Homo sapiens: one gene and its partners. The protein of the gene in region 2 interacts with the protein of the main gene of each other region in a pairwise test. Each region holds a gene or a part of one and is shown on either strand. Other genes may lie near its edges. The genes, in order: ZC4H2, ZNF76, L3MBTL3 and LIN37.

Region 1 (7,882 bases), on a different chromosome or scaffold from region 2:
CATAATTGACACAAAGAAACACACTCCAAAACACATTGTAATCAACCTTCTGAAAATGAAAGAAAAAGGAAACTTCTTCAAAACAGCTGAAGAGAAACAAAAGCTACAAAGGAAAAAAAAAATTAGAATGACAGATTTATCATCAGAAACTGACGATGCCCTAGCATTTTGTAAGTGCTGAAGGAAAAGAAGTGACAACCCATAAATCTATGTCCAATAATAATATCCTTCAGTATTGAATGGGTAATCAAGACATTCTCCAATGAAGAAATACTAAGGAATTTAGATATACCCTAAAAAAAGATGATAGTAAGCTCTGAAAACAGAAAAGAAACAATAAACAGTAAGCAAAAGCATGGTTAATGCAGTAGACTTTCTCTTTCCTCTTGAAATTTCTTGTATTTTGATAATTGAAGCTAAATTTATACTGTTATCTAGTGTGGTCTCAGCATATGTAGAGGAAATATTTAACACATTTATATTGTAAACTGGGGAATGTAAAGGGGATTGTAAATGTAAAGAGATGTAAAGGGGAGGACATGCTTCTACACTTCATTCAAGCATGTAAAGTGGTAATGTCAGAAGACTATTAAATAAATTATGTATACATAATATATTACTGAGAGAAAACACTGAAAATGCTATACAAAGAAATGTACTCAAAACATTATAAATAAATCAATATGAATTTTTAAAAAATGCTCCAGTCACCCACAGGCAGGCAGGGCAAAGAAAATGGAGAAACTAAAATTACGGAGAATGAACAGAAAAAAAAATAAAAAGGCAGACTTAGCCTTCATGTATCAATAATTATGTTCACAACAAATAGTCTAAATACCTTGCAAACATTAATCAAAATAAAGCAGGAATGGCCATCTTAATATCAAATAAAACAGACTTCAGAGCAAAGAAAATTCCTAGAGATGGATATTACATAATGAAAAATAGTCAATCTACCAAGAAGACATAACAATTCCAAATGTGTGTGTTCCAAAAGTGACTTAAATTAAACTGCTTTTGACAATTTTACAGTAATATACAAAGGTTAAGCCACTTGGTTTAAGAATTTAAAATGGAGAAAGTACTATAAATATATACTTGATGTTCACATATGGACAGATAAACATGTATGAGAGATAGAAATAAGGAAGGAGCAAAGGGTCAAAGAAACTGAAGAAAGGAACTAACATTTGTCAAGCACCTTTTAATTTAAAAGCTCCTGGCTCATTTACTCTTTAGTCTTCCCAAAGGAAATCTGGGATAGGAATTATTACCCCCACTTTACGGATAAGGACATTGAGGATCAGACAGATTAGGCAACTTTCCCATGGTTACACAGCTAGGAAAGAAAAAATAATATATCCTCCTATTCACATGGCATGCACATTTCAATGTTATTAACTGCCCTTACAAATGCTGATTATCTGATTAACCATTATTCACAGTTCTTCAACTGCTATAATCCTAAATCTCCTGAAGTATAAGCATAGCAGCATATTTCTGTTAAAGAAATAATGTTTGCTGGACAGAAGCAGGAATGATGACAGCAGCATCATCTAATGACCTATTGAAGTCAAGCTAAGAGCCTTACACACATCAAGACACGAGCCCAGAAATATATGCATTCATACTCAGCACTCACACCAATGGCAGAATTTGCAGTGGGAAAAACATCAGAAGCAGATTCTCCCACCACAGACCATTTTCTGCTTCTAACTCTGAACACACGCCTACCCCTGTCTTTCCTCCCAATCCCAATCACACTCCCACATTATGTTCCCAACCTCAGCCTCCAAATCCTACACTAATCTATTTTGCCCATGTTTTCCTTGGACTTTTAAATGGTGATGAAGGAGCATGTAGATAAGTGGAAGAAGAGAGACAAGAATGGAACAAAAGAAGGGAGATAGAAAAGAGGGAAAGGGAGGATAGCAGTAATAAAACAGAGACAGTGAGTACAGGCACCATTAAATGGACCAGAGCCCTACACCAGCTCCCCAAGTACAAAACAATATTTCCTTAAAATGCACATGCCATCCATTCATGTGTATTGCGTACACTCACACCCCGATGTACACATATCCATACACAAAGAGCTTTCCTCACTTGAAAAAAAGAAAAACCATTTTGGAAGGAGATGTTGAGTTAAGTAGGTACTCTTAAATGAATGTTTCTCGACTGGGTCCTTCTTTTCTTTTTTTCTTTCTACACACTCTTTTGAGTAAATTCCTGTACTTCCATGGCTTCAAATATTATCCTCCAAATCTCCAACCTCTATACCCCACCCACATTCATGCTTTAGCCCATACATATGACAGCCTACTGGGCTTGTCCGCCTGGAAGTTTCACAGATAAATCTCAGCTTTATATCTACGTCTCTTCCTACAGCAATCAAGCTCCTCCCCTTAAACCTTTGGTTTAATACCACCATTCTCTGCACAGTTACCTCAGATGGCAATCTGAAAGTCAATGTTGACTCCCCTTTCTCTTTAATGACTCACCTGCAATCACTTAGTTAATTCTATTTCTATCCTGAATATCTTACCCAATACCTGCCCCACTCTCCACCTCCCAGTTCACTGCTCCATTTCAGGCCTTCATTATGAATTGGCATGGATATTTGTAATGCAGTATCCATTTCCATCTGAAGAATTACTTCCCTGTCTACAGTCTCTCCTCTGTCTGCAATGGCATCCACATTGCCTTGAGAACTACCTTCCTAAAGCATGGTTGTTATTTTATTTCTCAAACATCTTCACTAACTTTTCATTGTGTATGACAATCTTTTTGAAAAATACAGGCTGCGTCCCATTATTAGCTCATAAAAAGAATTTAGTTGGTCACTAGTAGCATTTTTAAAAAACCTTTTTTAAAATAAAAAGGAAATTATCAACATACATTGCATATGAAGTAGTAGGTATACTTTGGAGAAGGTTTTGTTTAGTTTTAAATATGTGTATGTGTGTATTGTGTCATGAGGTGAAATTCATTTCTCACTTACGTCATTTCTTACTGTGTCTCTGTTGAACACACATTTACCTATCGGTGTTTCCATGGCATTCATGCTGCCTCCCCGGAAATCTGTCCCATACCCACTATTCTGACCTTATCTGCTACTGCTTTTTATTAATCCTATCCTTTAGCCATATAGAAGTTCTTACTGTTTTATATATTTCCGTTCCACCAGACCTTTGCCTCTGCAGATTCCTCGTTCTAGAATGCCACTCTCCCATTCCAAGCATCTAAATCCTACTCATTTTTCAAGGAAGACCCATATGAAATGCCTCGTCTTCTCCAAAACCTTCTCGAGTTCCCCAGTCAAAATGAATTACAATACCCCAACCACAGACTCCACAGGGAGATTTATTATAGCACTCAAGTTATCCCATCTAATGATGGAATTTTGAATTGATATCCTCCCTTCCTTCCTCCCTTCCTTCCTTCCTTCCCCCCTCCCTCCCTCCCTCCCTTCCTCTCTTCCTCTCTTCCTCCCTTCTTCCTTTCCTTCCGCCATTGGTGTGGCAGTCTTGGTAAGCTCCTCTGTTACCTGGCTTGGGGATTGACTCAGAACCAGTGCTTACTCAAGACCAAGGCACAGGACAACTGGAACCTCTGGGACTTGTGGATGGGCAAATTAAGCCAAACAATGCTGGCCACAGGAGAGACTGAAAAGGTGTTGGCATTTGGTATTGAGATGTAAGAAAGTTATCAGAATGAACTGTTATAAGAAATCTACTTTGCTGACAGTAGCTTTGTTTCCAGTTGAGCAAATAAATATTACATGGAAGAATGCTTAGTACTTAGGCAATATTCTCACCAGACTGGAGTAAGCAGGAAAAACTAGCTCCTTTGTGTTCATTCAGTGACATTTACTGAGCATAAATCTGGGCCATAATCAGGGCTGGGCTATCCTTTGGTGGCCCATCACTTAGGATAAATAAGACCCATCAGAAGGATCTTCTAATCAAAGTCAATAGCTCTGATCTCTCCCTTGAGTTCCAGACTCACATATCTAACTGCCCATTTAACTTACACCCTTGCATGTATCACTGGCATCTCAAACAGGCCCTCAACTCCAGCCCCACCCCTAAACATTTTTATTTCCCAGTCTTCCCCATCTCAGTAAATGCCTCACTATGCTGAAATCTGGAAGCCATTCTTTATTCCTCTTTTTATGTGACCCTCTCCATCCACACCATTAGCATAGTGGTTATTATACTTGACCATGCAGGAGGTTACACCTAAAGGGCTTTTAAATCATTGATTGCTGAGCCCCATTTCCAGGGTCTCTGATTCAGTAGATATGGAGTGGGGCCTGAGAATTTACATTTCTAACAAGTTCCCAGGCAATGCTGCTGCTGGTGGTGCAGGGACTACATGTGGAGAACAACTGCATTAGTAAGACCTGGCCAGTTATACCTATACAATATAATCTGGAATTGTCCACTTCTCATCATCCCCTCAACTTATTAACAAATACCAGCACTTTTCCATCAATCTCCAGTAAACAGTATCTTTTCACCTAATTTTCCCATCTTCAAGGCCTACAGGTCCCAGCTGTCCTACCCTGCTTTTTGAGTGTGCATTGGGGCTGAGTCACCTCTGAAACTGGGTGACAGATGAGCCTGCCAAGTTTGTCCCAGCAATGGATGATCCATGGCCCTAGAACTTCTCCTTCTTTGCACCTGTCCTCTTCCATATTTGCCAGAAAGAAATCATTGAAAAGAAGGTATCCAGCTGAATGTTTTATAGTCTTGGCTCAGGAGACTGTCTGGAGAACCTGTGGCCTAGCAGTCTGCTATGATTTGAATGTACCCCAAATTTCATGTGTTGAAACATAATCCTACCATTTTGATGGTATTAAGAGGAGAGACCTTTCGGGAAGTAATTAAGTCATGAAGCCTCTGCCATTATGAATGGATTAGTGCCTTAGAAAATGACTTGGAATGAGTTTAGACCCTTTTTTGTACTTCTGTGATTCCACCATATGAAGACACAACATTCACTCCCTCTTGAAAATGCAGCAACAAGGTGCCATCTTGGAAGGAGAGACCAAGCCCCTCACCAGACACCAAATCTGTTGGCACATTGATCTTAAACTTCCTAGCCTTCGGACCTGGGAGAAATAAATTTTTGTTCTTTACAAATTACCCAGTCTGTGGTATTGTGTTATAGAAGCACAAACAGACTAGGACAGGAGCTCAGGAATACTGGTCCAAAAGTTACCTAAGACTGTCATCCTGGTGACTGTAGAAACCCTAAAGTACCCTGAAAACCCTGTGGTTTCCCTGTGGTTCACGAGTCATACTAGCTGTGCTTTAGCCTCTTGGAAAAATCTCATTAGGAAATTTTATATATAAAATTGCATCTTTAATGATCTGGATGGCTTCCTCACTTGTAGGGCCAAACATTCCACAGATTTCATCTCATTGAAGCATCCAACAATTCCATGCAAGGCTACACTGAGTCCTACTTTCCAGGTAGAATTTCCAAGGTGCCAAGAGATTCCATGAAGTGCACTATTTCACCCTGAAAATTGATGACTGAGCCAGGACAAGAATTCACCCTACTGGCCTGGTTTTTATGGCTTTAAATCCATCATATGATGAAAGTTCCTTGTTGTGATGGAAAGGTGATCAGATTTACAACGCTGGATTTTCCACTTCCTGAATTTGTCTTCTTGGGCAAGTCACTTTACTTCTCTCAGCCTCAAATTCTTCATGTGTGAAAATAAAGTGAAACATACCTGCCGATATGGTTCTTATGAAGATTAAATTTTGATAGCATAAAAAGTGCCTAATACAGTTGCTGGAACATAGTAGGCACCACAAATATAATAGCTATTGTTATTAAATAAAGCCTTTCTTAACAGACGGTTGCTTTCAGTTCCTGTCACTTAGATAGATTCTTAATAAATATGAACCAAATGAATGAAATCCTTGCCACCCATGGTAATGTCTTTTCTTCTCTGAGGCTACTGATGCTATAATCACTCCCCTGGATTTACTACCTACCATTCAGTAGTTTCTCATTCCAAATGTAATGATTGAGCCCCGCTTATGGCCAAAGCAGAATGATAGGTGTTGTGGAGGTTAAAGAGAGAAATATGGCATAGTGCCACTGTCTAGAAAGCCCTCGTGTATATAATTACTCTGATTTCAAGTTGCTTCATGCATAAATCTGTACTTTTTAGAGGACCCAGAGGACCATGACTATGTGCCTTGTGCTAGTCCCTTTCCCATCCTGGACCTTTATTTATTCACCTCTGAAATAAAGAGGATAGATTTCATGGGTGACTTTGAAATAATGTTCTGACGAGCCCAGGGAATTCTAAGGAGGGTTTTAAAGGGCCACTGTGATAGAGTCAGGTGGTGGTTGAATTTGAGGACAGATTAATGACTCTGGGGGTCCCACTTCCACTTTAACCATAACAGTTATGATTTGTTCCATTTTCTATATTGGATCTCAATCAGTTATTTTATTTGAAGGAAGGGATCTTATCATTCATCCACAAGAACCAGCGCACTTCTGGATAAATGGTGCTTGCTTAATACAATTTTTAAGTCTGCTTGATTGATGGAAGTTTGTAAAGAGGGAATTTGGTATTGTGAGTACATCTAAGCAGTGACTGGCATGACACTCTTTGTAGATTAGAGAGAGGAAGGGCCTTTTATTTAGATTTAATCTTAGCTCAAACTTCTCAATTGCTGGACAGAGAATGGAAGGCTGGGAATTAGATGCAAATCCTGAAGACCATAGTAAAGGCAATCTACCTCAAATGCAACAAATTATTTATTTATTTATTTATTATTAAGCCATTAAGCTCCTTCTCATTTCTCCTGGCTGCCTTAATCAGCAAACTTTAAAAAAATCCATTCCCTCTACGTAAGCCTTTTGACAAGTCATTTATTTTTCTGGGAAAACATGAGCATGCTTAGAAGTTATGTTTAGTGGGAGTTGTAGGTTTAGATTTAATTCTGGGTGCAGTAAGAGGTCATTACAGGATAATTTGAGTTATATTTTATATACCATAGGAAACATCCATTTCAAGTGTACAATTCAGCATGTTTTAATAAATTTAAAGAGTTGTACAATCATCACCATAATATTTTAGAAAATTTCCATCATTCCAAAATTAGCTCTTTGTTCAGTTTCAGTTGATCTTTGTTCTTATCCACAGCCCCAGGAAACCTGTAATATATTTTCTGTCTAAATAGAGTGGCTTTTTCTTGATGCTGCATATAAATAGTTATACAAATGTGGCCTTTTGGGTCTGCCTTCAGTCACTTAGCTTATTGTTTTTGAGATTCATTCACATTGTAACATGTAACAGTATTTCATTCCTTTTTGTTGACAAATAATATCCCATTGCATGGATATCGCACATTTTGGGTGTTCACTCACAAGTTGAGGAGCATTTCAGTTATTTCCACTGTTTTGGCTCTTATGAATAATGCTGCTCTGCACATTTGTGTACAAGTCTTTTTGTGGAAAAATGTTTCCATTTCTACTGCTTAGATTCTCAGGAGTGAGATTTCTGTTTCATATTGTAAGTATATGTATAACTTTTTAAGATACAAGTGTTTTTGAAAGTGGATGTCCTAGTTTCCATCCCAAGAGGGAGTGTATGAGGGTCCCAGTTTCTCTACATCCTCAACAATACTTGTTAGTGTCTGCCTCAAAAAGGCATTATAGCCATCCTAGTGGTGTGATGTGATAGCTCACAGTAGTTTTAACTTGCATATTCCTAATGACCAATCTTGTTGAGTATCTCTTCATGAGTTTATTTGCCACCCATATATCCTCTTCTGTGAAGTGTTTATTCAAACCTTTTGTTCATTTTTTAACTGGGCTGTTTGTTTACTGATTGTGAGTTTTGAGT
Region 2 (7,882 bases):
TTGGTGACTTTCTCATCCTGCTGTTCATGACTTTTGATCTCATATCCCCTGAAGCCCCTGCACCTTGTAGGGGAGGGAAAATATCTTCTTAGGTTCATGGCTTAGGCCCCTATAACAACAGATTTAATAAGAGAAGATTATATACATTTATTTAATGTAAGTTTTATGTGACAGGAGCCTTCATAAGGAAATGAAGACCTAAAGAAATGATTAAACTTGTATATTTTTATACTAGATCTGATGAAGAGTGGATAGTTGTGGAAAAATACAAAAAGGGTAATATCAAATAGTAATAAACTGGGAGAAACTTAGCAAGGCCTGTTTGTTCAGACTCTTCTCTGTGTCCCTGTGTCTTCACAGATAAGGGTGCTTCTTTCCTCTGAGTATAGGGAGGGCACCTCTTTATGAGGAGGGTATTATGACCTGCTTCAGGGGAAAGTCAGAAAAATCCTTCCTAGGTTTTGTGATCTGCTTCAGGGGAGAAGAGCCTCAGAGAAAGTGAGAGTGACCTTCCTACTGCCATTTTCTCAAGTTGCCATATTTTGGAGTAGTGTCTTGAACCCAGTCAACTTCTCTCTTCATCCTTTGCCCAAATATCTCTTGTTCTATGAATCTTTGACGCTTCCAGCCCTTTCCCTGTGAACTCACTCACCATACAGTGTCTCCCACCTCACTGGCACTTTACCCCAAATCCTTTCATCTTGTTAAGTCCCTTAGCCCCAGGAATCCACAAGTCTGTATGCTCTAAAACCATCTAGCCCAGTTGCCTTTCATCCTATTTTTTAGTCTCAGTGTTCTACTCCCACCACCCCACCTTCTGCCATCCTCAGCCACATTCTGTGACCTGAAACCTTCATATAATTTGTCCTTCATTTAGTGACCTCTTGATGTGACTAGCTTCAATGGAATCGGCTCCTTCCATCCCAGCATGAAGCAATCCTGTATAACTTGCACACCCTCCCATTCTAAGGCCTCTCCTCTCATACCCTTGCCCAGTATCCTGTGAGATCCTGCCTCTCAGATTCCTCCCTCACCTTTTCAAACCCGGATTGTCTTTCACCCTTCCACAGGGCCTCCTCTTCCTGCCTTCCTCTTATTTGTCCCCTCAGCCATCCTCACCTCACCAATCTTGATAATTGATTACAATATAAATCTCCCTTCCATCTCAGGTCTGCTCCTTTCTTCCTCCACTCTCTTGTGCATCTATCTCCAGGGCCATGCGTATGCCCCTGCTGCTTTCAGCTCTGCTTCCTTCATATGCTGCACTGTTCCACCAAACTTCATCAGTCTCTTCGGTTTATCCAGAGAACTACACTCTTCTCTGGGAACTTCTGATGACTTCTGATAATAGATCACCAAAGGATCTTGGTTTTTTAGAGGGCAGGGAGAGAGCCCTTTGAAGTCCTTCAGAATCAATCTAGCTGTGTCTCCTGGACACCCTCCCACTATCCTATCCTGTTATGAAGCTGCTTGCTGTATATGCCCTCAGAGTAGAATGCTTTGGGTGTCAGCTTCTGCAGGCACTGAATTAGCCCCATTGTTTTCCAAGCCCTGGGAAAACTTGATAATCCCCAACCACTGAAGTCTGAAGAGTCAGTAGCAAAATGTGACATCAAAGATCCACATCCAAAAGTCTATTCTGTGGGTCACCAAATTCCCAGGTCTCTTATAATGTACTTATTGGCTGTGCAGCAATAAATACAGCAGAAACTAAAACTAGAGTTGAGGAAAGGGTATACCCTGGGTTCTACAACTGCTGTGGGTGGATTTTAAAAAGGAGTTCTTGCCTTAGATTTGTTTACTTAGGGCACAGAACTTATTCTGCCTTGTATTTGAGTTATTTGTGTACTTTTCTCAACCCCACTCTGTGAGCTCTGTGAGAACAGAGACTAGGTTTTCTTTTTTCTTTTCTTTTCGAGATGGAGTCTTACTCTGTCACCCAGGCTGGAGTGCAGTGGTGCAGTCTTGGCTCACTGCAACCTCCTCCTCCTGAGTTCAAGTGATTCTCACACCTCAGCCTCCCAAGTAGCTGGTGTTACAGGCGCCTGCAACCATGCCCAGCTAATTTTTGTATTTTTAGTAGAGACAGGGTTTCACCATGTTGGCCAGACTGATCTCTAACTCCTGACCTCAGGTGATCCACTCGCCTCAGCCTCCCAAAGTGCTAGGATTACAGGCATGAGCCACTGCACCTGGCTGGTTTTCTTTATCTTCTGTCTTCATCTCTTCCCTCACATTTAGCAGGTAGTCAGTACTTACCTGTTGGATTAAATTAACTCACTCAGAAATTCTGCATCAGGTGTACAAAAGTAAAAGCAGTTCATGTCTACATTCATTTTGTGGACACAACACCCCTCCCCAAAGTTCTCCAAACATGATAATGGGCATGTCCCTTGATTTAAACGTCGGTAATTTAGACACTTCCTTTTTTAGTCATTGCTCGGGTGGGGGAATGGGTGTAAGTGCTTTTCTTTTTCTACTGTATTTCTGGTAAGATAGGTTGTTTGACGCAGTTGCTCAAATACAGTGGTAACAGCATCAGGGGCTGTCTTATATAAATCTGTTCTCAAGAAAACAGCTAGTTTGAAATATTTAGTGTGGGTTGCAGAGACGATTAAGGAACAGAGGAAACCAAGGAGGCAAAATGTTGGTAATTTTTGAAGTTGGATAATGGGTTCAAGAGGTTCATTATACCATTCTTTCCATTTTTGTGTATGTTGGAAATCCATTATAAAAAGATTAAAGGCAGGGGCAGCTAGGTGAACAAGTGCAAATTTAGCACTGTTCCTTGGAAAACACCTCAGAGCAAATGAGCTACTGTTTCTGAATCAGTACTGTTATCTAGGTTAAGTAGTATATTTAGTCCTAACCTTTCTCTGACCTCTTCTGTTTGTGAGATATCAGGATGCTAAATTTAAAAATTAGCACCCTGCAGAATTCTGTACCTAGTGGCCTGGGAATTGTAACATCCTGGCATCAAGCACCTGTTGCACTGCTTCTCAGCTTAGGTATGGTTTCTGGTGGAATAGGGCTGGACTGGACCTGAGAAGAGGGTGAGGCAGTAAGGAGGAAAGAGGGACTGAGGGCTGGAGAGAGACCAGAGCTCTACTAGGGTCTTCCCCTTCTTGCCTAAAGGTTTCAAGTTACTGGGAGATCCTAAAGGTATATATATTCATTCATTCACTGATTCATTCATCCCACAAATATTTGGTGAATATCTGCTGTGTGCCAGGTACTTTTCTAGGTACTGGGAATAGAGCAGTGAGCTCACTGTTTGAGGAATGGACAGGGTAGAGACAGACAATAAACAAATAAGTAAAATATATATTGAGAAAATTAAGCAGAGAAGGGAGATAGAAAGTGCCAGGAGTAGGCCAGGTGCAGTGGCACACACCTGTAATCCCAGCACTTTGGGAGGCTGGGTTGGGTAGATAACATGAGGCCAGGAGTTTGAGACCAGCCTGGCCAACATGGCGAAACCCCAGCTCTACTAAAAATACAAAAATTAGCCAGGCGTGGTGGCAGGCACCTGTAATCCCAGCTACTCGGGAGGCTGAGGCACGAGAATCACTTCAACCCAGGAGGCAGAGGTTGCAGTGAGCTGAGATCACGCTGCTGCACTCCAGCCTGGGCGACAGAGCGAGACTCTGTCTCAAAAAAAAAAAAAAAAGAAGAAGAAGAAGAAGAAAATGCCAGGATTCTGGGTGTTAAAATTTTAAATAGGGTAGTTGAAGAGGTTCCCACTAAAAAGGTAACATTTGAGCAAAGACCTGAAGGAAGTTAGGGGGTAAGTCAAGCATACATCTAGGGGAAATTTATTCCAGTCAGGAAGAACAGCAAACACAAAGGCCCTGAGGCAGGAATGTGCCCTATATATTCAAGAAACATGAGGAAGCCAGCCAATACGGCTGCAGTATATTAGTGAGAGAAGAAATGGCAGATGTTGCGGTGGGGGTGAATTGGGGGCAGATCACACAGGCCACTGGCTTGTAGTGTGAGTTGTGAGTGAGATGGTAGCCATTAGAGAATTCTAGGCAGATAAATAACATGGCCTGACATATTGAAAAGGTCATTGTGGCTGCTGTGTTGAGAATAAGCTATAACGGGGCAAAAATGGAAGGAGAGAAACTGGTTAGGAGGCTACTACAATAGTCTAAACAAGAGAAGTTGGTGGCTTGAACCCAAGGTGAAGCAATGGAAAGGTGAGAAGTGGTTGGCTTCTGGATGTATTTGGAAAGGAGCCAACAGGATTTGCTGATGGACTGGATGTGATATATAAAAGAAATAGCAGTTGAGGGTGGCTACAATTTTTTTTTTTTTCAAGACATCTCGCTCTGTCGCCCACGGTGGAGTGCAGTGGCGTGATCTCAGCTCACTGCAACCTCCGCCTCCTGGGTTCAAGTGATTCTTCTGCCTCAGCCTCCTGAGTAGCTGGGACTACAGGTGCATGCCAGCGCACCCGGCTAATTTTTGTATTTTTAGTAGAGATGGGGTTTCACCATATTTGCCAGGCTGGTCTCAAACTCCTGAACTCGTGATCTGCCTGGCTCCCACATTTTTGGCCTAAGTAACAAAATGGTAAAATTCCCATCTACTGAAATTGGGGAGCCTGGAAGGAGGGCAGGTTGTTAGAAGGAGGAGATAAGGAATTCACTCTTGAACATGTCAAGTTCGAAGTGTTTTTTGGATATCAAAGTCGAGATGTTGAGTAAGCAGCTGGATATTCAAGTCTTTTGGAGCCTAGGAAATGTCTACTCTCAGGAAATAAAAGAACACCATCACCTGGCAAGAGACAGCGGAGTATGGGAAGAACACTGGTGGTCAGGTGTTAGGCCCTGCTCTGCCACCAGGTAGCTATGTGATCCTTTGGGACTCCTCTGGCAACGCAGGCCTCTGTCTCTTCATCTGCAAAATGACTGCTTTATTTTATTTTATTGTCTATTTCTTTTTTTTTTTTTTTTTTTTTTGAGACGGAGTCTCGCTCGTCACCCAGGCTGAAGTGCAGTGGCGCCATCTCGGCTCACTGCAAGCTCTGCCTCCCGGGTTCACGCCATTCTCCTGCCTCAGCCTCCTGAGTAGCTGGGACTACAGGTGCCCACCACCGCGCCCGGCTAATTTTTGTATTTTTAGTAGAGACGGGGTTTCACCGTGTTAACCAGGATGGTCTCTATCTCCTGACTTTGTGATCCGCCCGCCTTGGCCTCCCAAAGTGCTGGGATTACAGGCTTGAGCCACTGCATCCGGCCCCTTATCTGTTTCTTTGACAAGGTCTTGTTCTGTCACCCAGGCTGGAGTGCAGTGGCGCAATCATGGAGGCTCACTGCAGCAGTGACCTCTCCAGCTCAATCAGTCCTCCCATGTCAGCCTCCTGAGTAGCTGGGACTACAGAGATGGGCACCACCACGCCTAGCTAATTTTTGTATTTTTGGTAGAGAGGGTTTCACCATGCTGCCCAGGCTGGTCCTGAACTCCTGGGCTCAAGCCTCCACCTGCCTCGGTCTCCCAAGGTGCTGGGATTACAGGCATGAGTCACCACACCCAGCCAAAATGACCACTTTAGACTAGGAATGAGTTGTGTTCTCAGCCCCTCCTATTGTGGGAGTTGATGAATTAAGTGCTTAGAATAAACATGATAATATATGTGTATCTGAGAGCATTTTGGAAACTGCTGAGTTCTACACCAGGTAGTGGTATTGGCAATAAGATTTCTTCCTTCATTCGCTGAAGTAATACCCAGTGAGTGCCTGCCATGTGGTGGGCACTATGTCACATGAGGATACGATGATGGAGAAGACGAATCTGTGCCCTCAGGGAGCACCGCAGACAACCCCCTGTTGTGGCTTCACTGCCAAGTGCAGACGAAACATGGGGCTGGAGTGTGACATTAGCCAGGGAAAGCTTGTTCCTGATCTGGGTCTCCGTGGAAACAGTGAACGTGCATGTCAAAGATGAGGCAAGATGGTAATCCCGATGAGGGAAAAGTCATCCACTTAGCTGGACTAGGGAAGAGTTGGGAGTGGTTGGGAAGGGTTGGAGTGGTGGGGGCTTCAGTTCCTTCCCTCCTCCATTCTTTCGTTCAACATTTACTTCCTTGCCAGGAGCTTCTCTTAGAAGCTCACAGTTCTGTGGTAGATGAAGAGTTTCATATCTGGTCTCAGGAGTTCAACTTAGATATTACAATAAGCAGAACTGAATCAGGATTCAAATCTGAGCTAAAGAGCTCAGTTAGCTATGTAACCTAGTAGTATTAATCATTTGGTATCTGTGGGCACATTCTTTGTTAGGTGCTAATTAGGCTGAAAGGCATGCTCTCCAGGAACTTAAATTATAATCACTGTAACAGAAAGTAAGAATGTTATTTTCCCCTAAAAGAGTCAGGTGTTAAGGAAAACACACTCCGTGGCAGTGTAACCCTTTAACTGCATCTGGAAACTGTCCCTGTGGCTGTGTTTATTCTTGTGTCATTTAGATGTCTACGTTTATATCGTGAGGAGAGTCTCTTTGACCAGATAAGAGTATAAGATATAGCTCATCCTAATTGACAAAATTAGTCACCCACAAAATTAGTTTAGAGGAGACATAGTCAACATCTACCACGTAATGGAATGGGGAAATTTTGTCCTGGAGAGTGAAAAAAGAAAAAACAAACAAACAAAAAAAACGAAACCTGGCCGGGTGTAGTGGCTCACACCTGTAATCCGCACTTTGGGAGGCTGAGATGGGCAGATCACGAAGTCAGGAATTCAAGACCAGCCTGGCCAACATGGTGAAACCCCATCTCTACTAAAAATACAAAAATTAGCTGGGCATGGTGGCGTGCAGGAGAATTGCTTGAACCAGGACCCAGGAGGCGGAGGTTGCAGTGAGCCAAGATCGCACCATTGCTCTCCAGCCTGGGCTATAGAACAAGACTTCATCTCAAAAAGAGAGAAAAAAAAAAAAAAAACCACCTGCAATACAAATCCAAGTGCAGCTGAAGCCATTGTCTTTAACAGATGGCCCTAACCTGTTTTGAGTGCTGTTTCCTAAAGCTGCCAACAAACTTCAAATGCCTTTTACCCTGGCAGCTATCAGTCAAGATATAGAAATGTGATGGTCTCACAAATCCTATGCAATTGTCTCTTTTGCTGGCAAAAGTATGAGGCCAGCCGGGTGTGGTGGCTCATGTCTGTAATCCCAGCACTTTGGGAGGCTGAGGCGGGTGGTTCACCTGAGGTCAGGAGTTCGAGACCAGCTTGGCAAACATGGTAAAACCCCATCTCTACTAAAAATACAAAAATTTGCCGGGCATGGTGGCAGGCGCCTGTAGTCCCAGCCACTGGGGAGGCTGAGGCAGGAAAATAGCTTGAACCTGGGAGGCGGAGGTTGTGGTGAGCTAAGATCATGCCATTGCACTCCAGCCTGGGCGACAGAGCGAGACTCTGTCTCAAAAAAAAAAAAAAAAAAAAAAATGTATGAGGCGTACTCAGGCTCCTCTCTTCCAGTTCAGAATCAGAAGGATTTGTGATGTTGGACAGGTCATTCGGGGTCTCAGGCTCATTATACTGTCATTACCTGGAAGCCAGAGTGCCTCTTTTCTAGTGCCTCTATTTGACATTCCCTTAGAGCTGGCCCTCTGGTGAATAGTTCATCCCTAAGAAGGCCAGATACAACTTGTTACCCTGGTACTATCTCACTTCATCACTTCATTTGTTGGGAGTTCCTGCTACTTTTGGATGGTTGATAAAGCATGAGACCCATACAGTTAAGATAAGAACCAAGGAACTGGGAGCTCTTTGAGGTTGTAGAACTGACTTGAGGCTTTGATGTTGGGGATTTGGCAGGGGTGCCTAAGACCAGAGTTCTTTCTCTGAGATCATCTTCTCAACCCAGGAAATACTGT
Region 3 (7,882 bases), about 95 Mb from region 2:
CCCGCTTCTCCACCTCGGGGCCACCGCCAGAAAAATGCATTCGAGATCATTCAGAGTGCACAGAAACAAAAATAGATTTTTAATTGTTAGGTTAGGGGAAACTGAGATGAGAAATAAGAATTTGGGGTGGGGGGGCGCGGCCGGGGCGAGTGCGTCCAGTTCTCCTTTTGGTTTTCCTAGAGCGTTGTTTGTGATGTCTTTATTGGTTTAGGGAGTCCGAGAGGCTCTATGCTGGCTATCTCGGTCGCGTGGATTTTTGCGCAAGTTTTTAGAAAAACACTGACTCGAGTAGAGAGCATTTCTCCGGAAAGTTTCAAGTGCAGCAAAATAGCGAACGTGCAAAACTGGCCAAGGGGAGACCTCTAGTGGTTGAACGCGTCTTTTAAGTTCGGAAGGCCGAGAGCAAAGTTTGGCCTTTACTCGTAGCTACGTAGTCCGTTCAGACGTGGAAGTAATTAGAGGACCTGAGCGAGCAGCCAGATGTTGTGTGAAAGGATGCTGATCAGAAATTGAAAGTTTAGTAAATCGAAGCAATGAATTCTGAGGACTCAGACCCTGTAACTTCCATCCGACATGAGTTATATGGGAAAGACACTTTGCTTTTATTCAGAGATTTGAGATTGATCGCTCCCTGAATTGGAAACAATTGTTTGCTTTTGCATTTATCGGTGTCTGTACCTCTGATCAATTTTTAATTAACGAGTCTCAGCTGATGACTTTATTTTGAATGTTAAGAAAACTGCTAAGTTGAAATGTGTTTAAAACTTTGAAGAAATGGAAAAGACCTTTAGTTGAGATTTGTCTTTTATATGAGCTGTTCATTTTACTGTCTGATAAGTGTAAGGCAATTTTATATAGTTTCTTAGCTGTATAGTTATGTATAGTCCGAGTAAGTAGTCCCTTTTGGTTCTAAGACTGTAATTTTGTTTCACTGAGTACGAAATTATTTCTGAATACTTGTATAATTTGTGATTTAAAGTCCTTAAATACATGGGCAAAAATTTTATGTAATATCTATTCTTTTTCCAGTGTGTTTTCTGTAAAATATCTTTAATTTTAAAGATAAAAGCAGTGAGGGAAATTAAAGTTGACTCAAATGATCCTTGTAACTTTCACCTGCCTGTCATATACAACAGGAGAGACGTTATTGGGTGAATTTAGGACATGGGAATGATACGAATGATTAAAATCCATTTCAACTCATCTAGAACCAGCTTATTTTATTTTAATTTACCGAGTGGCATGGTGTAAAATTATGCCTAAGTGATTCAGAATGTAAGCTTCTTAACTGGGGATGGTGGATTTGAAGGTTTCTTTTTGATGACAGTGTTTTGATTTTACCTTCCCTCTCTTTAAACCAATGCTAGAACCCTTAGGAGAAATCTTGAGAGTGGACAGCAATTGTGAAGATCGCCAGAGAGTTCTGTGTTTCATCACCGCCGAAAGGTAAGACCCACTTGTTGAAATAAATTGCTTGACATACCTGCAAATGTTAAAAAGCTGCATTTGGAGATCAGGAAGGAGAGTATGAGACTGGGTTGGCAGAAAAACATCATTTTGTGGGGCTGCTTTGAATGCATGAATGTATTGACACTAAATGTAATTGTAGTTTGGATGAAACATTAGGAAGTTAGGAGATTGTCCTGGATAATCTTTGTATTGCCTTACTTACTAGATTCTTAATTAGCATTTTAGCACCTGTTTTCTACTGAAAGTAAATGTTTTATTCTTTGGAGTTGAAAAAGTGGAAAAACTGGAATAAAATGATTGTAAATTAATATAAGTGTTACATTGTTATACAGTGATATGGAAGATTCTGGAACTCTAAATGTCTTGGGGGGCCAGTGGTAAAATTTTGTGAATGAAATTTACATTGGGTGCTTTGGGGGTATTTGTCACATAACTTCTATGGCTTAAATCCAAGATGGGCTGACTTGTGCCAAGTGCCATGTTGCAGGGTTATGAGTGAGTTTCAGTGTGTTAGCTTAGACTTGTCAACTTTTGAACATACTTCCACAGGGAATACAGCTGTTGTCTACTAAGATCTCTTTAGTAATTTTGGAGGGTGTTGGCTTCTTTCCAATACTCCAGGTCCTTCTTTTAGGGCAAAGGTCATTCTCAGGCAGAGGGGACAGCCATCTCTGAAGGTAGAACATTTCAGTACATTTTTGCTACTCCAGTGCTTTCTACTGTTTATACCTTTTTTTTTCTTCCTTTAATCTTCCCCTCTCCTTTTCTGCCTGTTTTCCTGCCCTCTCTGTCTTGAGTAATAAAGGGGTCGCTAAATCTTGTTTGGCAAAAACAAAAGAAAACCAAAATTAGCCTACCTTTTTAGAGCAGAACTAACAACCTTCATTGGGCCAGGTGTAATCTAGAAATCAAAATGACTAATTATTGATATAAAAATGATTAACAGGAGTTTATTGTCATTTGCTGCTTGTGGATCATTTTGAATTGTATAATTAGCAAAATAAGTAGATCTGGTCCATGTGGATATGCAGCAGAGACAATGGGGCAAGAACAGCTATAGGAAGGTCCTGCAGACAACTAGGGTTCAAGAAGAGTAAAATCAGTTTCCTAAGATGGTGAATTTCATGTTTAAATGTGCTGAGTTGAAGACACTGCTTATTTTTCTTTGTCTGCGGAGTCACTGTGTCTGTGGATAGAATGCTAGAATAGGAATCAGAAGACTAAATGTAATAACTAGATATATCACCTTGTATATGTCACTCTACCTCCTTCAGCCTCCATTTCCTCATCTACAGAGCGGGAACAGCAATACTTGCCTTGCATCTTTTGTTAAAAGAATCAAATAAAATCAGATTTTGAGAACCATAAAGAGTTATTCAGATGTATAGTGGTCATATCATTTTACCTTCGTCCAGCTTTATGAAGGGCTGGAGGTAGATTGTCTAAGTCAGAATATAGTGATTTAACACTTGGCTAAAACTTTTAGATTGGTTTCTGATGTGTGTATTGTATGGACTTCTCGGAATATTTCTAGGAGTATATCTTGTCTTGAGAAAAAAGTAGTTTCCCTTGTATACTATTGGCTCTTTGAGGGAAGAGACCATGCTCTAACATGGTGCGGAATACAAAACCGGAAATTTATTTATCCCAAACTAGTCATTTAATAAGTAGAAGGAGTAAATGAAAGAAATACTTTAAAATGATGCCTAATTGTGAAAATGGTAGGGTGATGAAAGTAGAAGGGTTGGTGTGAGGGGAATTAATGTACTGTAATTAATATTTTAGTTGCATGAGTCTGCTGGGAGATGAGGATGAGAAAATAGGTAACTGGAGTAGTAATGATTTAAACTAACTATAGGGGCCAGAACATGAGTCCTCCGAATGACTGAATTTAGGAAATGTCCAAGTAGGGCTTTTCCTCCTTGTTTTCTAGACCTCTTTGGCTGCAATCTAATTATAGCCAACTATGTAAAATCTAGATTAAAAAAATTGTAAGTACTATCTATTATTATTTTTGATTTGATGCTACTGAACCTGACAAAATAAACCCTGACAGGTTTTAGTTTTACTTCATCTCCACTCTTTGGAGATTATCCAATCAATGTTCTAAGAATCCAAAAACCCAATAGGAGTGGAAAAAAGAAGTATATGTCCTGTTTAATTAGTCCCTGAGTAATTGAGAGTTGATTCTTAAAGAATTTTGACTGGGTTGGTAGTTTATTTTTAAGAATTCCATATTTCAGCCAATGCTGTTTATAGTAGTGCAGTTAGGATGGGGAATTTATGAGAGAACTTACTTTATGTGGTGGGTGGGATGTACCGTTGGCATCCCAAGGATGGATAACTTGAGTGATCCCTGCGGTATTGTTTCTACTAGTTACTTAACCAGTTTTTTTCTGAGCTCTTATGGTGTTGAACACTTAAAAGACGAGATCCTTGCTCTTGAGGAGTTCTAGAGATCCTTACTCTGGGACTAGACATAATGAGCTCTTCTAATAATAGTATAACAGTTGCACATGGTACCATTAGGAAAGGATGAGGGCTCTAGCACTCTTTGGAGCTGTTGAACCAGGAAACATGGATTTCTGGGCTAACTGATGCAGGACCATGGCATATCATCCAATACACATGGCACAATATAATGCATTCCTTTTTTAGTGCTTCGCCTTCAGAAATGAGTAAGAAGCCCTTCACCCACAGTCAAGGAATGTCTAGCAAGAGTCTAGCAAGATGGATTGAGGCGATTCTTTCTTTGACCAGTGTGTTCACAAGGTAACTTTCTGGTGAAGATCTACACTATCTTCCACTGTTACCACTTGCCACTATTGAGGGATTTGTTCCTCACAAGGATTTGGGAATGCTTATAGTATAGGTAAAGATAGTGTCTTTAGAGAGAACTATTTATATGTTCATATGGGTGCACATTTATATGTGACATCTTGAAGTTCAGCGGATCCATGGAAGATATATTTTCTAAAGGGCTTCATTATCTAACAGGAATATTCTCAGATTATCTCTTTACTGTATTAAATTATTTCATTGGTGGTTGTGGATGTAAGTCAATAGTGGGAAATGATGAACGGATTTGTATTGACTGTGGCAGCTATGCAGTGGGTGGATGAAAAGAAGCACCAAGAAAGGGTATCCTTGATATATAACTAAGCTTGATTTATGAAGTAAAATTGGGAAAGACCTTTAGAAAATTCCCATTTGGGAGACAAGATAGTTTGGAGGAATGAACAAGGATCTTTGAGAGGAACTTGAGTAAAGTTAAGTTGGGTGATCTTGGATGAGGGAACTTTCCTCATAAACTGTAGTTTCTTTCTGAGTAGACTTGGAATTGATTAGTTGGATGGTGATTATAAGAATGATATGTATATTATATGTAACAGTAAAATGCCTTCTGCATTATTATTCTTTCTCCCATATATACTGTAAATCATTGTTTTGTGTTCCACCAACAGATACTTATTGAACCTCTATTTTGTCTAAATTACTGTTGTGAACTGCTTCACAAAATCAACAATTACAGCAGGGTTGAATGAATGTATGTGTTGGGGCTACAAAGACATCGAGCATCAATCCTTGGGCTCAGTATATTCCTAATCTAGTTGGGGAGATAACCCATACACATACGATGGCAATTAACAAAACAAAGCCATGGTTAAGTGTGGGTGAATGGTAGATAAATGCTGTAGACACTGTGATGGCATCTCTGGATGTGGTGGTAAATGTGTTCCTGTGATAGGACCCGGCAGATGGGGTTGCTCTTTTAAAAACCCTATGAAGTGTTGATATACAATGTTAAGTGCAATTGTATATCGAGTGCCTTCTGAAGATCAAGCATTAAGCTAGATGCTTTATATTTATTTATTCATCCAAAAAATACTTTGAGTGCTTTCTGTATGCCCAGGTACTGTTCTAGGCACTGACTATTACCTCTCATACTTTCACTAACCTTGAGCACTGGGTATTATTTTTTGTCTTTTAGAGCAAACTGGTGCTCAGAGTTACTTAGTAACTTGTTCATATCATGCAGTTTGAAAGGGGTGGAATCAGGGAAAATGATACTGGCATATGATTGATGTGTCTTTAGGTTTTTGATTTTCAAAATAGTAACACATAGAATATTTTAAAAACAACACATTTCCAGATTAAGGTATGTGCTCTTTTACATTGGTTTACTAAGATGAGCAATAATGAACAGGTATAAGAAAAATAGATGGGAAGAAAAACTGGCTTTACTTTCTTCTTTTTTTTTTCTTTTTAAAACCAAGAATTGAGAAAAGACCAATTATTGAATTATTCTGAAAAGAACACCTTGGTCTAGCCCATGGCCTTGAAATGATCACAAACTGTTGATAAAACATTACTCAGAATAGGCTTGGGAATCACTGGGCTTACTTATATAAAGATTTCATTTGTTCTCTATAGGAAGAGACCCAATAAGGTAGTAGGACTAGTTATGAAAAATATATATATAAAGCATCAATCAATGAAAGAATGGGACCTGCATCTACCAAGGCAGGCTCAGTAGGTTATGAAATTTACTCTAAAGCCAGGATTGTAAAAGGAAAGAAGAAAATTAAGAGAGACAATGGTGGGGAGAAAATGGAGGGGTGGTGTGGTAGAAATGTGTCCTAGAATCAAAGTAAAAGATGAAAACAGGGAATATGACTAAGATCCTGAGCAAGAGTGCTATAATTACTGGTGTTATACACTGTAACCAAAAGAGTATGTCCCATGTTTGCAAAATGAGGTGAAGAGTCTATTTTGACTCATCGGGTGGTTTTGTATTGCAATGGGAATTATATCTCTCTGTTATATGAGTTACGGTGGATCAGGCAGTTCTTCAGTTTGACTTAGAAGGATGCCATTGTAGGCATTGATTACAAGGTAATGGGCTGTTTCTCCTTTGTTGAAGTTCTATTTAAAACATTTTTTGAGCGTATACTATGTACCAGACCTTTTAAAGGCTGGACCATAGCTTTATATTACATAAATTTTGTGGAATTAAGCTAATTTAGTTACTAGAACATTTTGGGTATGATTGCTTAGGTACCAAAATCAGTTGATTATTTTTCTCCATCCATTACACTGTTGAACCCTGAATAGTGAATTGAAATTCCTAGGTGGTCAATCTGGTCTGGTTGTTAAATGATCTTAGTAATTCACCGTATTGGTTTGTGGTCTAATTGGGTGGACTTGAGGCTTAGCTGTTCAGTCTATTGATAAGGAGGTTGGCTACAAATGGTTATCAAGATAAGCCTGTAGACTTCTGTGAAAGAAAAATCTAGCCAAATCTAATTCATTACATGCAAAAGAGAAATCAAGTGTAAATCTTAGCTTTATGTTCTATAAAAATATGAAGCAAAATAAGAAAAAAGATACTACTTTTAGCATTAAAAATTATGAAGTAAAATAAAAAAGAACAAGAGAGTACTTTTAGTTTTTCTTTTAAAATTTTAGTTCATGCATATTTAGCATATGCATAGAAATATCTGTGTCAGGTTCTTGTTCTTTTTATGGCCCTTGAATCCCTCTAATGGGTGTAAAATTTCTATTATTACCCTTCTAGTATAGTATGTTGATGATATGCTAGCACTTTAAAAAATATGTCTGACTCAAATTGAGGTATAGTCTGCACGTTGAACATGAATTTAAAATAAAAGCATTTAATGAGAGTCTATTAAATATGCCATAGGCCCATTAATGTCAGTTTGTGATTTCACTTTCTGTGTACCTTTTTTTTTTTTTTTCTTGAAAGGCATTTTTCATTTTCTGTTCCTTCTTTAGAGGAAGTAAGTAGGTTAGGCCACAGAATCTCAAATAATTCATCCTTCTTACAGTAACACAGAAGGGCAGGAAGTTGAGATTTTGTAAAGGTTACCTTTGGTGACTACCCTTTCTTTGCACATGATCTCCATGGCAGACAAGGTAGCAAATCAGAGAGACCATTGCAACATTATAAATAGGATCATTCACATTAAAATATGACTAGCTGATAAAGGGACAGTGTTTTTGAGAAAATATCAATAAGATGGAACCGCTGTAATGACTGATTTCATGTTTAAAGGCAGCATGGATTAGTTCACACTCAGGTGTCTCCTCTGCAGGGATGGATGAGAACAGAAGACCCAACTTCTCAAGGATTTGTTCTTGATGCTGCTAAGATTTCAGTTCTCACATTGAAATAATGATCTAGAGTTTTTCCTGCCTAAAATCTATGAACTTAGGTCCTTAGGACAGATTTCACATCTCTCCACAACAGACCTTAATTCCAATATATGTGTGATTCAGAGTACTTATCAGGCAGGATGAGTAGCATATCAAAGGTGGTCTCTGTCATGCTTGATTTGAAAGGAATATTTTTCTTCATAGCAATGTGTGTTTGTTGAGAGATGCTTCAAGT
Region 4 (8,194 bases), on a different chromosome or scaffold from region 2:
CCTGTCCCAGTGGCAAGGTTTAAATATGCTATATATTACAAATAATAACCCACTGAATTATCACAATAACCCTTAGAGGTAGATGTGATTTTTTTTTTTCTTGAAAAAGGATATCACGATGTTGTCCGGTTTTGAACTCCTGGGCTCAAGCGGTCCTGCTGTCTCAGCCTCCCAAGTAGCTGGGGCTATAGGCACATGCCATAGAGCCCAGCTCAGATAGATATGATTTTTATTCCTATTTTAAAGATGATGAAACTGAGGCACAGAGATGTTAGGCCACGTGCTCAAAGGCACACAGCAAAGAAATTGCAGAGCTGATGATTTGAACCCAGGCTGTCTGGTTCCAAAGCTGAAGTTATGAGACAGAGGCTCAACCTGAGTGCAGAATCTGGTTGAGGCAGTGGTATAATTTTATTTTAATTAATTAATGTATTTCTGTTTTGTGAGACGGAGTCTTGCTCTGTCACCCAGGCTGGAATGCAGTGGCATAATCTTGGCTCACTGCAACCTCCACCTCCCAGGTTCAAGTGATTCTCCTGCCTCAGCCTCCCAAATAGCTGGGATTACAGGCGCCCGCCACCACGCCTGGCTAATTTTTGTATTTTTAGTAGAGATGGGGTCTTACCACGTTGACCAGGCTGGTCTCAAACTCCTGACCTCAGTGATCTGCTGGCCTCAGGCTCCCAAAGTGCTTACAGGCGTGAGCCACCATGCCCGGCCAACAGTGGTATAATTTTAAATCTGAATTCAATCTGAATGAGCTGACATTTAAAAATTGGGAGATTTCTTTCTTTTCTTTTTTTTGAGACGGAGTCTTGCTCTGTCTCCCAGGCTGGAGTGCAGTGGCGTGATCTCGGCTCACTGCAACCTCTGCCTCCTGAGTACAAGTGATTCTCCTGCCTCAGCCTCCCAAAGAACTGGGACTACAGGCGCGTGCCACCATGGTCAACTAATTTTTTCTATTTTTAGTACAGACAGGGTTTCACCATATTGACCAGGCTGATCTCAAACTCCTGACCTCATGATCCACCTGCCTCAGCCTCCCAAAGTGCTGGATTACAGGCAGAAGCCACCGCACCCAGCCAAAATTGGGAGATTTCACCTAAAACATCCTGTTTGGGCTTTTTTTTCCCCCTCGGGAAATGAGATCTAGGCCCACCTTCCTGCCCAGTTAGCCTGTGGCTGCCTCCCGTCATCACAGAACTTGAGGAAGTGATGATGTTACGCTGTCCTCCTACCTTTGAGAGGTGTTTGCTCTGCCTTTCTGACTGGTGGGAGCTCTGGCTCTAGTGCTCAGAGCCTGGAGGGGACACCTGGGAACTTGCCTGACCAGTCCAGGGACTTCCTGAGAAGCCCAGGAGACACAGGGATTCAAACATAGCTCAGAGGAGAGACAGAGTGAGGGTGGGGAAGGGAGTAGCTGAGATTGCAGCAAAGCCTTGGGCAGATGCAGAGGGTACGGATCACGTCCACAACTCTCCTCAGGCCCAGCCTCTCTCCTGAACCCCCGACTTGGGCCTGAAGCCTCCCTCTCAAGGGTCGCCTCACTGTCCCCAAGTCCCTCCCTGTACCTCACCATGGATACCCCTCTCCCTCCCCTACCCAGCCCACCAACCCCATGGCCTGTCCACTAGGCCTCCCGAGTGTCTCTCCCACCCACCTCCTCCCTACTCTACCCATCCTGGTCCTGTCCTTTGCTCCCCCTTGGCTCCCTGCCTCAGTGTCCCCCTTCTGATACACCCTCCACAAGGCAGCCAGGGGAATCTTCCTGAAAAATAACAAACCTGACCCTGATCTTCCCTTGCTTGGAAACTTCCATGACTCCACAGCACCCAGGGGTGGAGTCTGCACTCCTCAGCCTGGCACTCACAGGTGTACACCTTCCCTCACCATCATTTGTGGTCACACCCACTTCTCTTTTCTTTCTTTCTTTTCTTTTCCTTTCTTTTTTTTTTTTTTTGAGACAGGGTCTCAATCTATCACCCAGGCTGGAGTGCAGTGGTGTGATCTCAGCTCACTGCAACCTCCGCCTCCCCGGCTCCAGCGATCCTCCTGCCTCAGCCTCCTGAGTAGCTGGGACTACAGGCTTGTGCCACCACACCTGGCTAATTTTTTTTTTTTTTTTGTATTTTTTATAGAGACAGCGTTTCGCTATGTTGCCCAGGCTGGTCTCAAACTCCTGACCTCAAGTGATCTGCCAGCCTCGGCCTCCCAAAGTGTTGGGATTACAGGTGTGAGCCACCGCACCCAGCCTCCCACTTTGTTTTAATAACACTTTTGCCATGGGACATCCTACATCATTTTACTATTATCTTTCTGTCTAAATTCTGCACCCCTCCCACTGCCCTTACCATGCCAGGCCTGGGATCCGGTCAGCTCCGCCCCAACCCAAAATTCTCTCCTCTTTCTAAGCTTCACCCATTGACCACAGTTCCTATTTTCTAGGATTACTGGAATATAGTGACTGTGAGGATTAAGAGTGCCTGTACTTCAGGCTCACAGCAAGATGTGTGACTCTGATCACTGCTGGAAATGGGGAAACTGAGGGGAAGCCAAGAAAAGAGAACTTCTCGGCTGGGCGCGGGGACTCACGCCTGTAATCTCAGCACTTTGGGAGGCTAAGGCGGGAGGATCGCTTGAGACCAGGAGTTCGAGACCAGCCTGGGCAATATAGCGATACTCCGTCTCTATTTAAATATTTTAAAAATTTAAATTAAAAAAAAGAGGAAAGAAAAGGGCCCTTCTCAGAGTTACCGGCTCAGGATTCCCCATGTCCTACCACGCACGTCATTGCCCGAGCCACCCCATTCAATCTCAAAGCGACTTCAAGCGCACACCGGGAGGGTGTGAAGGTGGCAGGCAACGCTCGCTGCCTGATACAGCGATTGTCAGGTGGGCTTCAGGGAAAAGTCGTGCAGTCCCCTTTCCGCGATACTCCCTTCCACCGGGACTCCACACCCTGTCAACCCGATGGTCCCGACAGGCCCCCGACGTCAGGGTCCTCACCTGATTTCTCCACTTTCACCTTCACAGGGAACATGGTTTGGGTCCGGGATCTGGCTAGCTGGGTCAGAGGCGCCCCAAAGGGCCTAGGGTCACAAGTCAAGGCGGGAGAAGGCGGGGACAGTTCAAAGATGAGCTTCGTGGGCCACGGGTCCTCCGCCTTTGGTTGTGTCCAGCCTGGACCGTGGCCACCACCCTTCTGTGGGCGGGCCCCTTCGGCAGTAGCTTGTTCCTATTAGTTATTGCAGCCGTCAATCTCGCATCCTGACCAATTGAGAGCTGCCTCCGTAGTCTCCCAGCTTTAGGTCCCACCCACCTGGGGCTTTGCTTCCGGAAACAAACCATCTACCCCCTAGCTTCCTGGGAGGTGTAGTTCCAGCTTCCCAGACTCACCCTGAGTAACAGCGCCTGCGCCGCGCGGGGCACGGTGGGAAACAAAGGATTAGGGCATCGCGAGGCTTCCCGGGACTTGTAGTGTGAGAAGGGTTGAGCAACACCAAGTTAGCTCTTTACCGGATTTAACCAACCGTTGGGGTCCCTTCATCCCTAAGAGGAAGACTAATGTAAAATAACGTTGGGTTCCCTCTCACTGAGCACTCGCTAGGTGCCAGGTATCTGTTAATCTCTTTGCAGGTACAACTTCATTCATTTTGCAAATATTTATTAGTGTGTCGGGCACTCTTCTAGGCATTGGAGACACCTTGAGGAACAGAATAGACAAAAATCCCTGCGCTAATGGAGCTTATCTTTTAAAGGAGGGAAGATAAACAGTAAACAAGTAAATTTTAAGTGAAATGTAATAGGAGAAAGAATATGATCTGGGCGGGGCATGGTGGCTCACGCCTGTAAATCCCAGCTCTTTGGGAGGCCTAGGCAGGCAGATCACCTGTGACCAGGAGTTCGAGACCAGCCTGGCCAACATGGTGAAACCCAGTCTTTACTAAAAATACAAAAATTAGCCGGGCATGGTGGCATGCGCCTGTAATCCCAGCTATTCGAGAGTTTGAGGCAGGAGAATCGCTTGAACCCGGGAGGCGGAGGTTGCAGTGAGCCGAGATCGGACCTCTGCACTCCAGCCTGGGTGACAGAGCAAGACTCCATCTAGAAAAACAAACAGACAACAACAACAAACCCCTCTCCCCCCCCAAAAAAAAAACCCACAAAAAAAGTGTAGCCTGAAAGGGACATAGGAATATCAAGGTGGTGATTGAATTTTAAATAAGATGGATGGTCAAGGAAGGATTCTCTGAGAAAGCTCTTGACTATTTTTATTTTTGCAGACAACACTTCCTTCAGAAAACGGGAAACTTCCATTTGTCACACGTCTTGGTCCAGATAAATCCCAGGAAGTAGCATCGTGATCTACACTTCTGATGAGAATACTGCAGCCCACAGTAGGAAAGTTATATTTTTGAATTCACGACTACCAGTACAGGATAACAGCCCCTAGAAATGGAAGCACTAGGCCGATCCTACCACTGCACTCCAGCCTGGCTGACAGAGCAAGACTCTGTCTCAAAAAAAAAAAAAAAAAAGAAAAAAGAAAAAGAAATGGAAGCACTATTCCTTTCTTAGTTTCTCATCTAATAGTTTCCTGAGCAGGAAAGTTCCTAGTTCAGAAGATTATGAGTAGTATGCACTGTAAAAAATGTACATCATGTCTAAATACTAAGCCTCGTACAAAGCTCTCAACAGATGTTTTTAAATATTAATAATCATTTATGCCTCAACCTCTAAAAGATCCCAGGAAGTCAGTATCGAAAGTTAGGGTCCTTTATTGGGGGATGTCAGCAGAGAACGTGGGACATGAAAACAAGTCTTAGGAGTTTGAGAAGGGGCTCCCAGGACAGGCTCCTCTGCTTTAAGGAGCCTGTCCTGGGAGAATAAGCAGGGCCCCAGTATGTGCAGAAGTTGTCAGGGGGTGCCCAGGGGTATGGTGAAGGAGAGGTAGTCCCCAAGGGCACCCCAGCGGGGCCGGTAGATCTGGAAGATGGTGATCCAGGAGGTGAGCACTATCACCCAGAAGAGGAAGCCCACAGCTGAGCGCCAGACATCTGTCATGGGAAACAGAAGCTGGAAGGGTTGGCCTCCGGCTGCTCTCCAGACTTCCCTAGACCAGCCTTCCCTTCTCACCCAGAGCCCCAACATTTTGGATCCTCCATTGTCCCTTCCCACCAAGATTCCCCGCTTCCCCCTCTCCCCTGCCACTGGCCTCCCTCCTCTGTGCTCTAGACTCACAGCCTTTGATTTGGCTCTGTTCTGTGTAGGCTGGGACAAGGAAGGCCTCTCGGAAGAACCAGAAGATGTTGACCAACCAGAGAAAAGGCAGGAAAGCAAACCCCCCTAGGGAGAAAGAAAAACAAACAAACAAACCCCAAAACCTCATAAGGCAATGAAGATCTTCTCCAACTCCCACCGAGATCTATTTGGAAGAAACTCTCCCACACCCAAGTTCAAATGGAGATTTCTGTTGTCAGGGACTCAGGAATCTGGCTCCTCTTTGGGATCCAGGAATCTGATTCCTCAACCATCTCTTTCACAGGACCCAAGAGTCCAGGCCCTCAATCCCCCTCCTCTCTTGGGATCCAGAAATTGAGGCCCCAGCTTCCTCATTCCTCAGGACCCAGGCCCTCCCCACTCAAATCCAGGAGTCGGCGTTCGCAGGTCCTTCATCTCTTAGACTTAAGAATCCAGGCCCCGAGGCCCTCTTCCCTCGGGTGCTCTAGTCCAGTCCCCTCTCTTCTCCTGGGACCCTAGCGATCTGCCTTACCCAGGTAGTACTTCCGGCACAGGTTCAATTTCTCCTCATTGGACACTCGCTCCAGGTTCATAGCTGCGCTGGGGCCGGGTCGTCCCAAGGGTCTGCGGGGCAAGACCCAAGCCTTGACCCTAAGTAACAGATGCAAGGATCACGAACAACCACGCCCCTATTAGAACAAATCAGAGATAAATGTAAAGGTCGGTTTGCTGAAAGCAGGGCATCCCCACCCCCACTAGTAAGCTGGCTGGATTAAAGAGCTCTTTATATTTACTAGGGTGGGCGAAACGACCCCCAACTCACCAGGAGAGCTCACTTCCTCCGGCTGGGGTGCCTTAGCTACTTTCAGTTATGGACGTTTGCGCGAGACGCCCCAGGTTTCCCTGGAGATTGTAGTCTTCTTTGGGCGAGGCAACACTGCACGCATGCGCTGTTAAAAGAACTCCTACCGGGGAGTCTATGGGGAGGGCGCGCGCCTCCCACGCGCAAGCGCCCTGGGGCGTTTCCGAGCGCTTGGTAAGCGCCTGGAGAGGGCAACGAACTACACTTCCCAGTGCTCCTAAGCAACGGAAGTGACGTAAGAGCAGCCAGACCTGGAGGGCTTGGGTAAAAATGGCTGAATATTTAGCTTCGATATTCGGGACTGAGAAGGACAAGTGAGAACGGGCGCTGGGAGTGGACTCTCGGGGGGTCGGGGCCGGGGTACTGGGGTCCTGGGTGGTGGGGCGGTGTTTCTGGGGTGCCCAGCTTCCCCGGCCCTCGGTTCACCTTTGTCTTTGCACCTTTTCCAGGGTTAACTGCTCTTTTTACTTTAAGATCGGGGTCTGCCGGCACGGGGACCGGTGCTCCCGGCTTCACAACAAGCCGACATTCAGCCAGGTGAGACCCGGCACGGAGCCTCGGGGGTTAACGGCTCCCTGGCCCTTCCCCTTCTGGGGCCGTCGTCACCATGTCCCGCCTATTCCGGGTTCCTGAGTCCCTCCCCACCGCCCGGCTTTTTTTCTCATTGGACCTTTCTGCAGGCTCCTCCCACCGGTCTTCGTGCCGTTTTCCCGGGAACTTGGTCGCGCCCCCATGCGTACAGGCTACACACGGCGGCTGTTCATCTTTGCCAGTCCCTTCCATCCCGCTGTTCATCCTTGCCAGTCCCCTCCATCCCTTTTCTGGTTTCTTAGGGGCAAAGGATCGCCGATGCACTCATGATGCTTAGGCTGGGGTGTAAGGTTCCACCCCCAACCTTCATGCCTCACTCTCTGTTCATGCAGCCCTGCCCTCTGAGCTCAGGCCCCGCCCCTTTTAAATTCTGTGCAGACCATAGTGCTGCTCAACCTGTACCGGAATCCACAGAACACAGCCCAAACTGCAGACGGATCACACTGTGAGTAAGGGACCAGGCCTGGGGGCAAGGTGAACAGCCCCCAGTAGGCTACACTCTGATTCCACCCTGCCCGCCCCCACCCCAGGTCATGTGAGTGACGTGGAGGTGCAGGAGCACTATGATAGCTTCTTCGAGGTGAGGGTTGGTAGGGGCAGATGGGGTTTCTTGTGGGAGCTCAGCTGAGTTCCTCCCCGTCTTCCACAGGAGGTGTTCACAGAACTGCAGGAGAAGTATGGGGAGATTGAAGAGATGAATGTGTGCGACAACCTTGGGGACCACCTCGTGGGCAACGTCTATGTCAAGGTGCTTGCTGCCCCCCACTTAGGGCCCAGAAGTGGAGGCGTTTCAATGCCTGATGGTGGCCACTGTAGGCTCTCAGCTTGAATTTCATCACTAAATCCAGTCCAGCCCCAGAGCGGGTAGTGAGTCCCCTGAAGATCTCTGAGTTCTCCTGCTGACCCTGACTGACATTTCCTGCAGTTCCGGAGGGAGGAGGATGGAGAGCGGGCCGTGGCTGAACTCAGTAACCGCTGGTTCAACGGGCAGGCTGTGCACGGTGAGCTGTCTCCTGTCACTGACTTCCGGGAGTCATGCTGTCGCCAGTATGAGATGGGGTATGGTAGTTCAAGGGTGGGATGGGCACTTGGAATCCCAGACTTTGAATGCGTGGTAGGGGCTGTCAGTGACAATGGCTTCCTCCATCTCTCTACCCTCTATGCAGGGAATGTACCCGAGGTGGCTTCTGCAACTTCATGCATCTGCGGCCCATTTCCCAGAACCTCCAGAGGCAGCTCTATGGGCGGGGACCCAGGCGCAGGTACCTCAGGACCAGCCTGCTATGTCTCCTCATGTCCTAAGGCCCCTATATCCTCAGATGAGCCTAACCCTAAGCCCCAGTAACCACGTTCCCAAGAATCTTTTTTTTTTTTTTTTTTTTTTGAGATGGAGCCTCACTCTGTTGCCCAGGCTGGAGTGCATTGGCACCATCTTGGTTCATGGCAACTTCCGCCTCCCGGGTTCAAGCAATTCTCTGCCTCAGCCTCCCAAATAGCTGG

The links.
Region 1: the proteins of ZNF76 (region 2) and ZC4H2 interact in binary tests that used the Homo sapiens proteins (3 or more experiments, as listed by UniProt).
Region 3: the proteins of ZNF76 (region 2) and L3MBTL3 interact in binary tests that used the Homo sapiens proteins (3 or more experiments, as listed by UniProt).
Region 4: the proteins of ZNF76 (region 2) and LIN37 interact in binary tests that used the Homo sapiens proteins (3 or more experiments, as listed by UniProt).

What each region holds. Positions count from the first base shown.
Region 1 is NC_000023.11:64,966,087-64,973,968, reverse strand, and holds part of ZC4H2 (zinc finger C4H2 domain-containing protein), read left to right. Parts: intron 1-7,882. UniProt on the Homo sapiens protein: Plays a role in interneurons differentiation. Involved in neuronal development and in neuromuscular junction formation.
Region 2 is NC_000006.12:35,261,853-35,269,734, forward strand, and holds part of ZNF76 (zinc finger protein 76), read left to right. Parts: intron 1-7,882. UniProt on the Homo sapiens protein: May be involved in transcriptional regulation.
Region 3 is NC_000006.12:130,020,860-130,028,741, forward strand, and holds part of L3MBTL3 (lethal(3)malignant brain tumor-like protein 3), read left to right. Parts: exon of another isoform or gene 1-1,275; intron 1,276-1,367; 5' UTR 1,368-1,446; intron 1,447-7,882. UniProt on the Homo sapiens protein: Is a negative regulator of Notch target genes expression, required for RBPJ-mediated transcriptional repression. It recruits KDM1A to Notch-responsive elements and promotes KDM1A-mediated H3K4me demethylation.
Region 4 is NC_000019.10:35,743,571-35,751,764, reverse strand, and holds the start of LIN37 (protein lin-37 homolog), read right to left. Parts: upstream 3,190-8,194; 5' UTR 3,041-3,189; coding exon 3,007-3,040; intron 2,952-3,006; exon of another isoform or gene 2,755-2,951; intron 1-2,754. Other genes in the region: PSENEN (gamma-secretase subunit PEN-2), read right to left, coding at 4,918-5,057, 5,242-5,346, 5,774-5,834; U2AF1L4 (splicing factor U2AF 26 kDa subunit), read left to right, coding at 6,374-6,417, 6,553-6,640, 7,344-7,442, 7,620-7,695, 7,861-7,956.